Linked DNA regions of Homo sapiens: region 2 is linked to region 1. The links come from fine-mapping of genetic effects on gene expression. A gene starts in region 1. The other region holds a variant in brackets. All regions are shown on one strand. Distances are from middle to middle.

Region 1 (8,331 bases):
AGCGATGAATTTTTGTACACATGTGTAGCCGGAAGGAGCAGGATCTAGTTTTCCACAGGAGTCAAAGTTGGTCTAGAGGCAAATGGAACCTATATAAACATATGTGATTTAAGTATGAGTCTTTAACAGAAATTTGCGCCAGACCATCATCTGCTACTTTTAACCCGGTTCTGTTCTCTTGTGCCAGGAGGGCTGCTCTCGTGAACAAACCTGAGGATCTCTGACTAGTAGTGTTCTGGGGAAACAGCTCTGAACATGAGTGCATCTCATCAATTAGTTTTGCACTGATGTTCCTCCCATGATCTACTGCTAGGATGATTCAATACCTGGGCCAAGAGTTGGATGATTTGAAATCAATGTAGGGTCTCATTTTCAGGAATTCTTAGGCATTGGATGAATTCTAGGTCTGATTCTGCCACTGATTTACCCCGTTGTTGGGTAACTCCCTTTCTTTGCCTCTCAGTTTCTTGGTCTGTAAAATGGGAAGGCTGTATCTCTGAGGTTCTGTTCGACTTTAACATCTGGTGACCTAAATAGCTCTGTCCAGGTGGGTATAATTCAGATTCAACTGTGATTCGTCTAGATCTAACTAAAATGTATTGGGCGCTTACTTTCATATACATTATTTAATGTAGGGCTCTCAAAACCCCAGAAAGGTAGGTGTTATTATCTTCATTTTGTAGATTACAAAATGGAAACTCAGAGAAGTTCAGCAAGTTAACTGAAGTCACACAGCCAGGAAGTCATACAGCTGAGATTCAGTCTCAGGCCTGTCTGCCTTCACGTCCAGGGGGCTGAGAACAGATAATATGAGCCCATGCCAACTTGGCTTCCCCCACCCCTCACTTCCTGCCTACCCAGGAGCTCAGCTCTGTGATCTAGTGTAGTGGGTTGAGGGATGGAGGGGGGATCTGGCTGGGGCTGGGGCTTGGGCTGCAGGCCCCGGGTAGGTATGGGTATATGGGTAGACACTGGCTGGAGAGGGGCAAGTTCTGAAGGGCTGAGAGCAAATTCTCTAGTCTGGCCTGGGACTGGCTCTTCCACATGAGTTCCCCAGGCTCCATTTGAGCTGAAGCTTAAGGAGCTGCCTGCTCTTTGCTCTTCTTTCCATCTGGGAGCCCCTGCTCACCACATGGCTTGTCATCCCCAGGGACCCACCCTCAAAAATTCCTGTCCACACTTCCCAGTCCTCAGAAACTATCTCCTAACACCCATTGGCTGAAGGTAGGGAAGGAAGAGATGTGCTAGAGAGACTGAGCTCGGATCTCTGTCCTGACAATTGGGAGGAAGACTTCAAGCGATGCTTTTATTTCAACCAATTCAATCACCACCAGTCTGTGTCTTCATGCAGCAGTGGCTTTTGAGATCTCGGTTGTCTTTTCAGAACATTGGGACGGCCTCAACAACTTGCATGACGCTGGGCAAGTGAATTTCTCTCTCTGGGCCTCAGTGTCCCCATCTAGGCAATCACCAGCCGTTAGGCCCTATGGATGGAAGGTTCCTGCCTGCAGTGGCATTTTAGGATCCACTATCATCTGCTTTATCTTCCTAGTGGCAAGGGACTGGACCAGATGCTTTTGGAAAGCGCACCAAGCTTAAAGGTGGCTCTCTCTGCAGGTGCCCCTCCTCCCTTCACGCCAGAGGCTCACCCCCACCCCGCCCGGGCTCCCTGTTAGAGCCAGGCCTGGCTCTTCAGCCTTGCAGCTCAGGAAACCAGAGCGCAGCGCTATAGCCGCGACTGCGGCGGCGGCGGCGGCGCAGGGGGCGGGGGAGGAGAGAAGCGCCCACTTCGTCCCGCTGCCTCCGCAGCAGCCCTGGCCCTAGCCCCGGCGCATCAGAGCGGTCCTTGGGAATCTTTGGGCTTGTTGCTCCGGCGGCCGCCAGCTGGGAGCCCACCACCGCTCGATGGTACCGAACCGACCCGTGTAGCCCCATAACCCCAGCCCAACTCCGAGGAGCTAGCGCAGACCGCTCTCCGCCCTCAGCTGCGGCGAGGCAAGGGCTGGCAGCGCTCGGACGCCTCCGTCTTGCCCTTCCCATGCCTAAGCGCGGGGAATTACACGTTCCCGGTGTAGAACAGACGATCGGGGCTATTAGGGCTGGGCGGTGGGAGTGGGGGTTGGGAGCACCATTTTTGGCTGGACGTGTGTCCAGACTCATCGTCTCTGGTCCTTAGGACCCCATCTTCCTCTGCATCTCCAGGTGTCGGCCCCTCTGTACCCGCCTCCCACGGGGCTCGTCCGGCGAAGGGCAGCCGCAGCCCACATCTACTCCCCGCCCTCAATCCCTGCCCCCTCTGCCCGCCGCAGTCACTCGCCTGGCTGGGAGCAAGCCTCCCCTCTCGCTGAGGGTGCAGAGAGCGCCTAGGGCGCCAAGAGTAGAGGGGCCAAAGTTCAAGCGCCATCAGCCAGCCGAAGGCCCTGAGCCCCCAGGGCCGCGGCCGGGACGCAGGGAGGTCAGGACGCGACGCTCGCCTCACCTGTTTCTCCAGCGGCTCCTTGGCCGACAGCGCCGGCTTGGGGGAGGGCGCGCGGTCGCAGACGCAGCCCTCCAGCAGGTAAAGCCCCGAGGGCCGCGAGCTCGAGTCGCTCTCGAAGTAGAAGAGCAGGTTCTGCAGCAGCGCGAACCACTTGGTTTGCCATTTTGTGTTGTCCGAACTCCGCTTGCTCAGGTAGCCTTTGCGCGTGCCGTCCTTGCGCGCCAGCAGTCCCAGGGACGCGACGTGGCCATCATTCAGCCGGATCCCCTTCTGCATGGTGCTCAGAGGCCAGCGAGACCCCACGCGCTTACATCTTCTCCGCGCAGCAGCCCCCCGTCCGTGCGCGCTGCGCGCTGCCTCTCTCTGGCGCTCGCTCGCTCGCTCCCTCTAGCTCTCCCCTCCCCCCAAATATCTACACTCCAGGATCTGGCGCCGAGCCGCGGCTTCTTGAATCCAGATATACCATTCCCCGCTGGAACCTCTTCTCCGCTCCGCAGAGCCCCAGTACCCGGAAGATGCCGCCCGACCCTCCTCCGGTGCCGGGCAAACTGAGGGACTGGCGATCTGCGCGCTGGCGAGGGGCAGGCGGAGTCATGTGACGCCGATCCCTCGAAGAGCCCGTTTCAGCAGCGCGGACAGGGACACACGCACGCAGCCCCGCCGAGGCGCAGAGCCGCGCGCAGGCTGCAACTTGGTGCCTCCTCCCCCTCCCCAGACACACACACACGCACACGCACACGCACACACTCAAACCCTGCCCTCCCTCCCCTCATCTCCCCTTCTCTCCCTCGGATGTTAAAAAGCAAATCAGATCAATTTTCGTTTAACCCAATGAAACCCCGAAGGCTCGCCATCCCGGGAGTTTGCGTCTTTGCGCCCCACCGCGGCGCACTGTAGACCTGGGGTTAAGTGCCAGTTGTCATTTTCTCCTCCAAAGGCTCGCCCCCCCCCCCCACTTTATTTCTAATACGAGGTGGAAGGAGGAAGGTGGGTGGCGAAATAGAGCTGCAAAAGCGTCCAGTCCTAGTCTTTGCATAGTCAGCCGGGTCACATTGAATTCCAGCATCCGGCTGCACTCCCGGCGGCTTCCCCAGCTACCTGAGGACAGTACAGGGGGTGAGATGGGGTGGTGGTTGGTGAACGTTGGTTACTTTATTTTATATTATTTTATTTTGAGAGTTGCCATAATTACCGGCGCCACCCCCCGTGCACCCTGAGGTCTGGTTGGCGAGCCGCTGCTGGGAGTTTTCTGCAAATACCCCCCAAAGCCTGAAGGCGGGCTTCAAACGCAGGCGCCGGGGACCATGGGAGCCTTCAAATAGCTGCGCTGGCGCAATGATACCTTAATGATAGATTTTCCGTTCTTATTTTTAGCTCTCATTCGCCTACACAGTTACACGGCATTTATCCGAGAACGTCACAGCGCCCGCATGCTGCACCGGGAGGGCGCGCGGGCCGCCGGGCGAGCCGGGAGCTGGGGCGGGGAGCGCGCATCGCTGTCTGCCGCAGAGGGCAGCGAGCTCGCCCCGACCCGGAGCAAGCCGCGCCTGGCCCGGGCGCTTTGCAGCGGGGATGGGTGCCCGCGCAGCCCTGTGAAGGAAAGACACCATCTTTCCGCACGGAAACTGCGTATACCCCTCCCCCGACACACACACACACACACACACACACACACACACACACACACACCCCACACTCACACACAGCACACACCACACACGCACAGATACACACCACACACCACACACCCACACACCACACACACCACACACACACACCACACACACCACACACACACACCGCACACACCACACACAAACCATACACCACACACACCACACACGCACACACACACGCCACACACACCGCATACACAAACACCACACACCACACACACACACCATACACCACACACCAACACACCACACACACACCACACACCCAAACACCACACACACCAAACACACACCACACACCCTACACACACACCACTCCCCACACCCCCCCACACCCCACCACACACACGCCACACACACCACACACAGACACCACACACATGCCACACACCACACACACACCACACACACACCACACACCACACACACACCACACACATGCCACACACCACACACATACCACATGCCACATACACACCCCCCACACTCCCCCACACCCCCCGCCACACACACACACAACCCACACCATACAAACACCACACACTACACACAACACCCCCACACTCCCCACACCACACACCACACACCACACACACTACACACACCACACCCACATACCACACACACCCCTACACACCCCTACACACCACACACACCCACACCCACACATACACCACACACCAGACCACACACCACACATACCACACACACCATGCACACCACACCACACACACCACACCACACACACACCACATAACACACCCCTCCCACAGACCAAACCTGGGCTGCACACACACACGCATCACACCTCACACAACACATGCAGCACACCACACACACATACACACACACATACACACACACACCCTAGTTTGGAGCCCTAGGGAAGGGCTTGGAAACCAGGCAGCCCTGTGTAGGTCACGGAAGAATCCACAGAGAAGCTCTGCTGTGGAGGAATGGAGCTGCCCCTGTCCTGAGCACAGTGAGGCAGGCCTGTGTTCCTGGAGTGGGAGCATTTTGGGGGAGGAACTGGCCTTGTTAACCTTAGTCCTCCCTCTAGTGCCATCGTTCCAGTCCTAGGGACCCCAAGGACTCAGTGGTGCTGATTTTTCTTCACAAATAATGAAAATAGGCTAGATGGCTAAGCCTTTTCATTCAGTCTTAATTTTCCCTACACTATCACCATCTTTTCTTCTCATTTGCTCTCTTCATGGAAGCAGAGTTTGCAGGATTGAGGTTCTTAATCTGGCCTTTCTTTATCTAAACTCTTTTATTCGGAAGTCTGTTACAGAAGCCAAGAAAACTTCAGGGAAGGGGCACTGTTCTAAGTGCTTTAGATCAATTAAGCCATTGAATCGTCATGCAACCCAATGTAGTAAGTTTATTTTTTTCCCCAATGAGCTCCATTGTACAGACGGGGAAACTGATGCATGGGAGAGTTGAATGACTTGCTCAGGGCCGCTCAGCTAGGAAGCAGCGGAGGTTGGATTTGAACGGGGCAGTCTGTCCCAGAGGTCTTTGTAGAGCTAAGTGGGTGGTCCCTGGGTTGCAGGGAGGTTGGCTTTTATCCCAAGAGGGGGTACGATGGTCAAGAGAGGGTCTCCCAGGTAGGCTGGAGTCAAGGCTGAGCCTGCACAGAGGCTGCTGTGGCAGAGGGACTTATGGTACATAGGTTCTGAACCTGGGCTGCACATCAGAATCACCTGGGAGCACTTAACAAGCACTTCCCAGAGATCATGGGTGGGCTAGCTACACTTTCATGGGTAGTTGTAATGTGCAGTGAAGGTGGAGAACCGCTCATATACGGGAGAACTCATGATATGGTCACGTGCACATGAATCACCTGGGGATCTTGTGAAAATGCAGATTCTCTTTCAGTGGATCTGGGACAGGACCTGATAATCTGCATTTCTAACAAGTTCCCTGGTCATGAAAAGCTGCTGGTTTGCAGACCACACTTTGAAAGTTCTAGGGCACTCGAGAGGTGGGAGGCAATGGGATTCATTCATTCATTCACTCATTCACACACATTTCATTCCACTAGTGTTCATTTAGCCCTTCATCTGTGCCAGGCATGGGTGGGCCACTGGGGATACAGTGATAAACAAAATACAGTCCCTGTCTTACAAGGGATGCCCAAGCATGCCTTCTCTGTCTGACCCTTAGTGTAGCAGGAAGAAAACCATCTTCCCTTGGATCTGGGGGAAAGATTCCGATGAGAGGTGGCAGGCGGATTGCCTGAGCTCAGGAGTTCGAGATGAGCCTGGGCAACACGGTAAAACCCTGTCTCTACTAAAATACAAAAAAATTAGCCAGGTGTGGTGGCACACACCTGTAGTCCCAGCTACTCAGGAGGCTGAGGCAGGAGAGTTGCTTGAACCCGGAAGGCGGGGGTTGCAGTGAGCTGAGATCGCACCACTGCAGTCCAGCCTGGGTGACAGAGCGAGACTCTGTCTCCAAAAAAAAAAAAAAAAAAAAAAAAAAATGAACCCACTTCAGTGAGTCTCAGCCCTGGTGCACTTTGGAACCACCTGGAGATGTTTTAAAAATCTCTGTGCTCAGGCTGAACCCCAGGCCAATTAAGTCAGAAACTTTGAGGGTGGGCCCTGGGCATCTGTGCTTTTAAAAGCTCCCCAGATGATTCCAATGCACAGCTGGGGTTGAGAACCACTGGTCTAAAGCCTGGGCCAAGAACATCTGCTCTCCACTCCCTCCTTCCCCTTGCTGGCATTGGGGAGTCTGAGCCACCTCCTTTTGCTGGTCTTGGAGTTACAGGAATTCCTCGTGGGCCAGTCCATGCAGGAGGGCTGGGCTTGGCTTAAAACCTCTCTGTGAGAAAGAGGGGGGTGGCATCAGCCCTGGCGCTTTGATTACTCCCATCTGAGCTGTGTGCATATTGATTTCTCTCCAGTCCCCACAGCTGGAAACCGGAGAAGAGCTGATTGGCCCCTCTGTGGTCGTTTGCCTCAATACTAGTCAGAGCTCAGAGCCCCTGGAAGGTGCTTAAGTTAGCTGGCTAAGAAGACAACGTTTACCAGGCCGGCCCTAGCTTGGGCTGGGGTGGGGAATGCCAAGAAGGGGGTAGGCATTCCCTGCCATAGCTGGTGGAAGTGGGCACACCTAGCTCTCATGTGTGCTGTCCACTAGTCCTGAGGTCAACCCTCCCTCAAAGGTGGAGAGGATGTCTACAGGAGCACCGTAGGTGCATCTGGGCTTTGCCATGCTTCATTCCATTCTCCCAAGAAGGATTTGCATAAGGGTTAATAATCCCATTCACAGATGGGAAAACTGAGGCCCAGACAGTGGAAACAACATGCACAGAGTCTTACAGGGAGGAGCTGGGATGAGGTACTCTGACTGCTCGTCCAGGCCTCATCCCAGAAGAACTGGCTTCCTGGATTTCCCACCTCCCAGCCCTGTGGGCTGAGGTCTCTGTAGATAAAGAATCAAGAAGGAGAATTAAGGAATATTTTGGTGGGTTTGGTCTCTGCATTTAGAAATGGCTAGCTAATGACAGGGACATTGCCCAGTTCAAAATCCTGCTAAGTCTTCATGTGGGATTTTGATTAGACTTTGGACTGGAGCTCAACTTAAGCATTTGTTGAGATGGGTGTCCTGTGGGTCTGACTGGATGGGAGGTGCCCGCTAGTGAGGATTTCTAGTGTGTGTGTGTGTGTGTGTGTGTGTGTGTGTGTATGTGTGTGTGTGATGTGTGTTGTCTATTGCATGTGTGGAAGTTTCTGAGTGGTATGGTGTGTATGTGTGTGGGGCATGCAGCGTGTGTGTGGATGGAATATCTAGAGAACCTCTGCTTCCTTGGCAACATATTCCATAAGAAAAATGTAGTTTCCATGTCATTTAAAGAAATGAAGACTTAAGCACAAGGGGTCAGAAGCAGACTTGGAAATGGAGGCTTTGCCCTTGGGGATTTACTACTCCAACTTTGGGCTCAATTGGTCAGCTTTGCCCAGACATCCAACTGCGGACACCAGCGATTTACGCTTTTACTTTCTAGCCAATGAAAATAGCCATAGTATTCCGTTTGATTAAAATTACTGCAGGCTCTTTGTAAAAAACTTAGACAATATAGAAAATAAACAGATAATTTCTCCAATGATCACTTTTTTCTATACAATCCTCTTTTCCTAAGTAAATATATCTACCAAAGTGTGTTTC
Region 2 (8,331 bases), 87 kb before region 1:
GCTGCAGGCGGCCCTTTGCATGTGAGAGCAGGGACATTGGAGAAAGCTGTGTGGGGAGGGGCTGCCTGGGAGGTGGGTCCCCTGGGAGCTCTCTCTCACCATTGGGTATCTCACAGCCCCCTTGTATAGGGGAAAGGGCTTTATGAAAACCGGAGACCAAGACTGCTTCTCAAGGATCCTTCAGGATCAGGAGTCTGGGACTGCGGGTGAGCAATGTCACCGCCTCTTGGAGTCTTTCCCCTTATTTGAAACACCTAGCCTTTTTGCAAAGCTGTCAAGATGATGAAAGGGGTCTGTGCAGAGCCTGGCACTCAGTTCAGGAAGCACCTTCTGAACCAGGATCTTCCATGAATGAGCCCTAGATGCTGAGCCTCCCTGCCCACCTGTGCTGGGGTTCAGGAAGCACCTTCTGAATCAGGATCTTCCACGAATGAGCCCTAGATGCTGAGCCTCCCTGCCCACCTGTGCTGGGTGGGCTCAAGGCAGTCTTGTCTGAAGTTGGGAGAGTGACTTGGTTGAGTTGAAGAGCAGGATCTACCCAGCCAATGTTCCAGTGCCCACAGCCCCTTCCCTTGGGGTGGCGGGGGGCGGGTGGTGGTGGGTGGGTTATGAAATATCAGAAAAGTTACTGCTCTTAGGAGTCACTCATAAAGCATAAGGGATGACACCCACTTGCCTTGACTCGACTTGACCTACTGCCCTCTCCCAAACTGGAAATCTATTTGTGGTTTTGAATTGGTGCATTGTACCTGAAGAATTTTTGTTTTTGACTGATTTGGGTGTTGTTGGAGATTTAGTTGGTGATGTTTCAGTATCACCATCATCACTCTGGTTTTGATCAATATCTGACTCCTCTCTCATGGAGACTTCTGAGCCTGGGAGAAAAGAAATAAATAATTTTACTTTTCTTAATTTTAATTTTAAAATTTAAATATTTGATTTTAAAATTTATGTCTATAATTTACTGAGGCAAAACAGAGTAAACTTGGGATACAGCCACTGAAGAAAGTTTAACAGCTTTGTTTCCCGCAGGACTCATCAGAACCTTTCTCTTGCTAATGAGCACTGTCGATCTCCAAGGTGGCTTTTGCTCCACCAGGGCTTCTCAAACCTTACCAGACACACCTGGGGATCTTGTCAGAATGCAAATTCTGATTCAGGGGTCTCAGGCAGGGCCTGAGAGTCTGCATTTCTAACAGGTTCCAGGTGATGGCCATGTGGTTGGTCCACGGACCACACTTTGAGTTACACGATCTCTCTTTTTTTTTTTGGTGAAGCTTATTAGTTAAGGTGACCATCTGCTCCAGTTTTCCTCTGCTTTTAACCTATTGCCGCGTGCCCCTGGTCACTCTTAAAATGTCCTGTCTTGGATAATTAATTATAGAGGCTTCCTAATCTTGGGAGACTCCTGGTCCACACACCCTGGGGAGGCTGATGAATTATATTAAAAGCCTAGGTCTGGCACAGTGAGGTCTTGGTCAGAAACTCTTAACTGCTCTGGGCCTCAGTTTACCCACGTAGAAAGTGGATGTAGTTGCATCTGACCTTGAGAACACAAAGCCACAGGTCTTCTCTTTAGACAAGAATGTCCACAGGCACATGCACACGCACACACATTTATACATAACAAATACACATACACACACATATACACACACACACAGTTTGGCACATAATTAGATTCATGGGCTCCTGGATCACCAGTCAAGAAGCCTGGTACCAGATGACTTCTCAGGACTGCCTTGCGTTACATTTCAGAATGTGAAATTATGAAATTTCTGGCAGGCCATTTCCTTGGTGACTGACTTTCAGCTGCATGCATCACCCATTAACTGCATGTGCCACGGTGAGTGTTACTTGGTATGGAGCCTGGCGGAGGATTTATCTTGCCCCAGCTGTGCCCTCTGCTGGGGGTGCCCTCTGCCTTCCCTCTTGCCAGCTCAGAGGAGAGAAATCCTTCCCTCTTCAAAGGCCTCCTCCTCAAAGCCTGGGGCGTCTGACCAGCCCCTGGTTGCACGTGGGTGCGTGCGTGTGTGCACGTGCTCTCATGTGCTAACCGAGACAATGCTTGTGGCACCCAAGATGTGGCCTGTTCGGATCTAAATCAGAACCAGACCTGACACTTTTAGAACAGTCAGGAGAAACCCTGAGAGTAGGGAGGCTCCAGCCTGTCCTGGAATCATCTCCAGCCTGTCTCACACTCAGCATTCCAGGTCTGCCTGGCGTCCAGCTGTCCCCGAAACACACAAGGCCTTTTCTTGCTCCTCAGTCATTCCCATCCTGTTCCCATGGTCTAGAATGTTCTCCTTTCCTCTTGGTAAAAATTGAGATCGAACAGTTCTTCCGGGAAGCCTTCTATGACGCTCCTAATGGTGTTCCCACCCCAACCTCTGTGCCCCTGGAGCATCCTCCTGACACAAGCCATTCGTATCAGGTGTCCACATTTCAGTGTCTGGTCTGGGTCCTCAGCCAGACTGAATCCCAGGGGGCAGGAGCTGCTGACGACCTCTTCTCTCCCGGGCCCTGAATGGGCCTGGCCCAGGCCCTGTCCTCTGCAGACATGGACAAACACAGGGATGCCGTAGGATGCTGTGGTCAGGGCAGAGGGATGCCTAAATTGCTCGTGATGGGAACTGACTCATCTAAAGTGTGGCGATGCCCTGGGAATTTCTGCCTGCCTCCCCCCGCAGCCTGGGCTCCCACATACGGCTACCTCTCTGCACCGCCCAGACTCTGTGCTGCCTCCACTATCTGCCTGGTGGGACCCCCAAGCCTCTCCCTTCCTTCCCCATGGGAGCAGGAAGAGCAGCCCTGAGGCCTTGCTGGGCCAGGCTGAGCCTCAGTGGGGCTGGGAGGCTGGGGGGCAGCTCCGACGGCATGGCCACTCACTCTGCTTGCTGAGCGCTGAAGGGTCTTCGGGCTTCTCAGGGGTCGTATCGCCCTCATCTGGAATCTTGTTGGTGAAGCTGCTGGACACATAGAGCTTGCTGGTGTCCAGCGTGGCCTTGCTGAAGGGTGACATGGCCGAGTACATGCTGGTGTAGCCATTGGAGTTGCAGCTGAGGGCGGCCAGGTCCAGGGCCTTGCCGCCAGTGATGATGGGGATGTTCAGGGAGAGCTTCCGCCGGCGGCTCGGTGACGATGTCTTGGTGATGGACAGAGGTGGCGGCGAGGAGAACTTGCGGGTGGCGCGCGGGGACTTGGGGGGTTCACCGTACAGGAGCTTATTGTTCTGGCCACTGGCAAACAGGAGCTCCAGCGACCTGTGGGGAGGGCGGGGGTGAAAATGACAGTTAGCGTAGGCCTGCCTGCCCGCCTAGGCCTGGGGGCCGTCTCCGGTGGGGCTCGGAGTGGCAGCAACGGCTCCATCATTCTTAGGATCCCTGAAACCCA[T/A]ACTTGAGCTGATCCTCTGAGCAGGGACAATGCGATTAAATGGCCTGGGGCCAAGGGTCCTGCTCTGGATGGTTTGGGCAGAGGATCTGGGGCTTCTATGCTCCGCCCCCCCACCCCCTCAGGGCAGCAGCTGCAGCATCTGACCTGAAGTGCTAAGGGTCCCCTGAGCTGCGGACTGTGCAAAACCCCCCTCCATCCCACACAGGGCCTGCTCCCGCCTACACTCTCTGGCCTCATCCTTAGAGAGGTCCTCAGGCATGTTTTGTGGAATGAGGAAGCTGAGGCTCAGAGACAGGAAATGACTCATCTGATGCCTCCTACTCTAAACGCAGGGTCCTTTCCACCTGCTTTGGGGCTTGAGCGGCCCTATATGCAAACTTAGGGGGATGGGAAGCTGAAAGTGGCCCCTACCATCCTCATGACAGGGTTCCACCTCAGGCCAGGCTGGAAACAGGTTATACATCCAGAACATTGCAAACCATAGCTTGTCTCATCGAGGCTGTCTGCTCCACGTTGCACACAGGATAGGATTGATCTTTTAACCCTCACTGTTGCCCCAGGACGTAGGCACTCTTATTCCTACAGGATAACTGCAGGAATGTCACAGGTAGGAAACTGAGTCTCAGAAAGGTTAAGGGACTCAGCCAAGGCCATAGGGCTGAGAGCTGGCTCTGAACCAGCCTCTTTGTTCTGCAGGGCACTGCTGCTGGGAAAGGAAGGACACTGTCTGCTGGGCCCCTGGGAATGATCTCAGTGACTTTTAGGGGGTAAATCCATCCTGGATGGGATGTTTGCTTCTGTTTTCTCAGAGCCCTGGGAATCTGATCATTGAGGTTTCAGAAGTTCAGGGCAGAGAGGCAAGATGTACCCTGCCCCAGTGAGGCCTGAGGTGGGGGCAGGAGGAGGGAACAGAAGAGGGAACGGGTGTATTCTGGGTCGTTGCGTTGCTCTGGCAGCAGAGGTGTGGATTGGGGGAGGAATGGTGAGGTTCCTGGGGAGCCCTGGGGAGCCAGTGTGATTCAGGAGCTCTGCTCCAGGCAGCCCTAGAGCTGAGGCTCTGGCATAATGTCTTGCCTAGGGTGTTTTGGGGCAGGGCACTCAGAGAGCCTCTGAGCCTCTGAGGGCTGGGATGGGCTGTCCACAACTGGGATCTGGGTAGGTGGCCTCTCGGAAAAGATAATCACCTACCATTCCTGGATGCAGTGAAGTCCATTAGGGGCCTGAGCCAATCCCTGAACTTGGCCTACTGCTGGACAGCCTTGGCCAAGTCCTTCATTGCCCCATGACTTTTGAGAAGCAAAGGCTAAGGTGGCCTGCACTCCTTATGTTGACTCACCCCAAGTAGGCCAAAAAGGGCTCCATCATTTCTTAGAGTAGGAGGTGGTCTAAGCAAAGCAGGGGTAAGAGTCCTTTCTCCCTCCCTCCCTCCCTCCCTCCCTCCCTTCCTTCCTTCCTCTCTCCCTTTATTTTTCTTTCTCCCTCTCCCTCTCTCCTTCTGTCCTCCTTCCCCTCCTCATTTCCTTTCTCTTTTTTCACCAAAGGAAGCACTGTCCTTTGGTGACGGTGGGACCCTGTGCTTCCAGGAGCGGGGCTAAGAGGTGAGAGCACCCTCCACACCCCAGGATCCTGGCAGGTGGAGATGGAAGCAGCTGAGACTGAGCAGTAGCACCAGGCAGGTGAGCTGTCCCTGCCTCTCTGCAGAGGGAGGCTTGGTTCCTGGGGAGAGGGGGCAGTGGCGGTGTGTGTCCCGCAGCACCCCAACACGTTACTGCTGCTCCTCCAGGGACCTTCCAGGTCACCCCCCGGCCCCGTGCAAGCTCAGTTTTCCTCCAAGGCTTGGAAGCTCTCCGGGCATGGGAGGAGGAGGGCACCTCAGCCACCTGGCAGGAATGGCACTGATAGGCTTCTTGTAGATGGTAATGAGCTTGTCCAGGACCACGATGGCGGTGGTGAAGACGCGGTAGGAGTGCAGGAAGGTGTTGAGGAAGTCGATGCTCAGGAAGCGCAGGTCCGTCAGCCTCTCCAGCAGCCGCTCCACACTGGCGTAGCGGATCTGCAGCACTTTGCAGGAGTTCATGGTTTTGCTGAAGCGAATGTCAACATCATCACAATATAAGGAGGCGTCGGACCTGAGAGGGGAGGAAGGATGCAGAGGTGATGTGGGTCTAAAGGCATCTGAATGGCACCCACCAGGCCTGCTCATCACTGCTTCCCCCACACACTGACAACACAGGATGGTCTTATTAAGAGAACAAGCTTGGGAAGGATGACACTGAAGGAGGGCTACAACTTCTTTTTCCCAATATCCTAAAAACTCTCCATTATAAAACCCCTAGAAATACTGGAGAAGTATTACAAATTTAAAAACATTTGTTGTTGAGTTCACAAGACGTAAGGAACTCTGTTTACACAAATGTGTATGTGGATGGGGTGCAGTGGCTCACGCCTGTAATCCCAGCACTTTGGGAGGCTGAGGTGGGAGGATCACTTGAGGTCAGGAGCTCAAGACCAGCCTGGGCAACATGGCGAAACCCTGTCTCTCTTAAAAATACAAAAGTTAGCTAGGTGTGGTGGCCCATACCTGTAATACCAGTTACTAGGGAGGCTGAGGCACAAGAATCGCTTGAACCCTGGAGATGGAGGTTGCAGTGAGCCGAGACTGTGACACTGCCCTCCAGCCTGGGTGACACAGCGAGACTCTGCCTCAAAAAAAAATATGTGTACATGAATGTTCTTAGCAGCATTATTTGTAATAGCCCCAAAGTGGAAACTACCCAGGTGTCCATCAGCTGATACATGGAAAAACAAAATGTGGTCTATTTGATCTGCTAGCAGCTGTCAAGATGTAAGGACAGGTGTCCAGTGCAGTTAGCCAGAACAAAGGGGCTAAGATGGGGTGAACTTGCAGGGGTCTTGTTTCAGCTGCTTGTGAACTTGAGGTCAGCAGCCTCTACAGGGCATAGTGGGAACCAGTGGCCCTGAAGGCTGCTGTACCACACAGCGCCCTCTGGTGCTTACGCCACTGGAATCGTCTTTTATTGGTCATCCAATGGGAGCTATTAGGACTCTTGGGCAACTCTGGGTTTTCATTTTTTGGATGTTGTGAGTCTTTGTAATCATGTTTTACTTTTTGTTTTGACTACCAAGAATCTTAGAATCAAATATAGTGCTCATTTCTTTTTATTTACTTCTTTATTTTTTGTTTGTCCTTATTACTTACATGCTGATGGCCGTATCTAGTTTTTTTTTTTTTTTTTTTTAATGAGATAAGGTCTCATTTGCTCAGGCTGGAGTACAGTGCGGTGGTGTGATCATGGCTCACTGCAGCCTTGCTCTCCTGGGCTCAAGTGATCCTCCTGCCTTACCCTCCCCAGTAGCTGGGATTACAGGTACATGCCACTATGCCTCGCTAATTTTTGTATTTTTTGGTAGAGACACGGTTTCACCATGTTGCCCAGGCTGGTCTCGAATTCCAGGGCTCAAGCAATCCTCCTGCCTTGGCCTCCCAAAGTGCTGGGATGACAGGTGTGAGCCACTGTGCCCAGACTATCTAGTTTTTCTTTTTTTTTTTTTCTGTTTTTTGAGATGGAGTCTTGCTCTGTCACCCAAGCTGGAGTGCCTCTGCCTCCACGATTCAAGTGATTCTCCTGCCTCAGCCTCCCGAGTAGCTGGGATTACAGGCATGCGCCACCACGCCCAGCTAATTTTTGTATTCTTAGTAGAGATGGGGTTTCACCATGTTGGCCAGGCTGGTCTCAAACTCTTGACCTCTTGATCCACCTGCCTTGGCCTCCCAGAGTGCTGGGATTACAGGCGTGAGCCACCGCACCTGGCTCACCTGTTCTTTCGAGGGTATCTTCTACCTAGGAGTGCAGATAGTGCTCAGAGGAAGTGAGCAAATGGACATAGCATCCCTTTCACACTGTCTTTCTTAAATACTTTTCTTTGGAAGCATTCTTGGGATTTGAAATAAATAAACTTTATCGAGTGCCTTCAATGAGCAGGGCAGTGGGATTTCTTTTTAGGATGAGAACAATATGGGAAAAGCACAGGGCCCGTAAAGATACTGCAGTTCAAAAAGAGAGCATTCCAAAGAAACCGAGGAAATGCTGCCTTCTAAGTTAGCTTTGCTGCAAGACACAAAACATTTTAGAAAACTCCTGATTTGGTTTCCACCAAGATTCAGGAAAGTATACACTGCATCTATGGGACCTTGAGAAGCAACCATGAAGAGGGAGTAATCCAAGGTCAGAAGGATTTCCTGGACATGAAAAACAAGAGTGCTAAATTGAAGGCTGGGACGGATGCAGCAAATGGCAGATCGGACACTCAGAAAATCTGAGTGGTCTATTAAACACATTTGAGAAAGTCCCCTAGAACTCAGAGAAGGACAAAGAGGTTGAAATGACAGAAAATGGAAGCAACACAGAGTGGACAGAGAGGGGACCTCTCACTACCGTGAGACAAAGTAGCAAACGAGAGAAGCCACGCCTGCTCATTTCTGCTTGCTGGCATGACTCCACAAGGCCCCTGACTCCGTGACGATGTGCAGCGCTCCGGAAAGATGCTTTGAGGACAAAGCAGGCCAGAGCACATGGCCTCCCAGGTCTCTTGCCTGAGTCTCTATTCTCCCTACAAGATAAATGACCCTCGTCTTTGCCTTTCCCAAACATAATATGACGTCTGATAAGGTTAGTGATGACACCTCTGTCATCTCTAACCAGACGCACTCTCAGGCCCAAACCTTGATGTGATTCTGCTTCAGTGTCACTTCTCAGCAAGTCTGATGTGATTCTGCAGGTGCTGAGCCCCCCACCTGCATTTAAGCAGTGGGCTGAAACACTGTGCTGATATCTGATAGGACCTCACAGAAGGGTGGCTCCCGGGCTGCTGGCCTCCGTCTACAGTCCTCAGGAAGGCTTCTGAAGAAAACAAACC

Alleles and levels. Positions count from the first base shown, and alleles are read on the strand shown. Sizes are in standard deviations (SD) of each study's normalised expression.
For the expression in monocytes after Pam3CSK4 of the gene that starts at base 3,037 in region 1, A is the low allele of the variant in region 2 and T is the other (moderate effect, 0.55 SD a copy in Quach 2016).

Evidence for each region. PIP is the estimated chance that this variant, and not a neighbour inherited with it, causes the effect.
Region 2: its variant is fine-mapped to the expression of RASGRF1 in monocytes after Pam3CSK4 (Quach 2016, PIP 0.95).

The regions. Positions count from the first base shown.
Region 1 is chr15:79,087,744-79,096,074 of GRCh38, forward strand. It overlaps RASGRF1 (Ras protein specific guanine nucleotide releasing factor 1), which reads right to left and starts at 3,037. Exons shown (of 27, transcript NM_001145648.3): 1 at 2,480-3,037. The coding sequence starts at 2,755.
Region 2 is chr15:79,000,913-79,009,243 of GRCh38, forward strand. It overlaps RASGRF1 (Ras protein specific guanine nucleotide releasing factor 1), which reads right to left. Exons shown (of 27, transcript NM_001145648.3): 14 at 5,274-5,522; 15 at 2,890-3,263; 16 at 750-875. It overlaps LOC105370917 (a long non-coding RNA gene), which reads left to right. Exons shown (of 3, transcript XR_932519.4): 2 at 4,977-5,069. Among named protein-coding and RNA genes, the nearest start is that of CTSH, 60 kb to the left of the region's middle. RefSeq lists enhancers at 2,815-4,014, 4,943-5,778 and a silencer at 6,215-6,509. The variant T/A (reference allele first, on the strand shown) is at 3,394.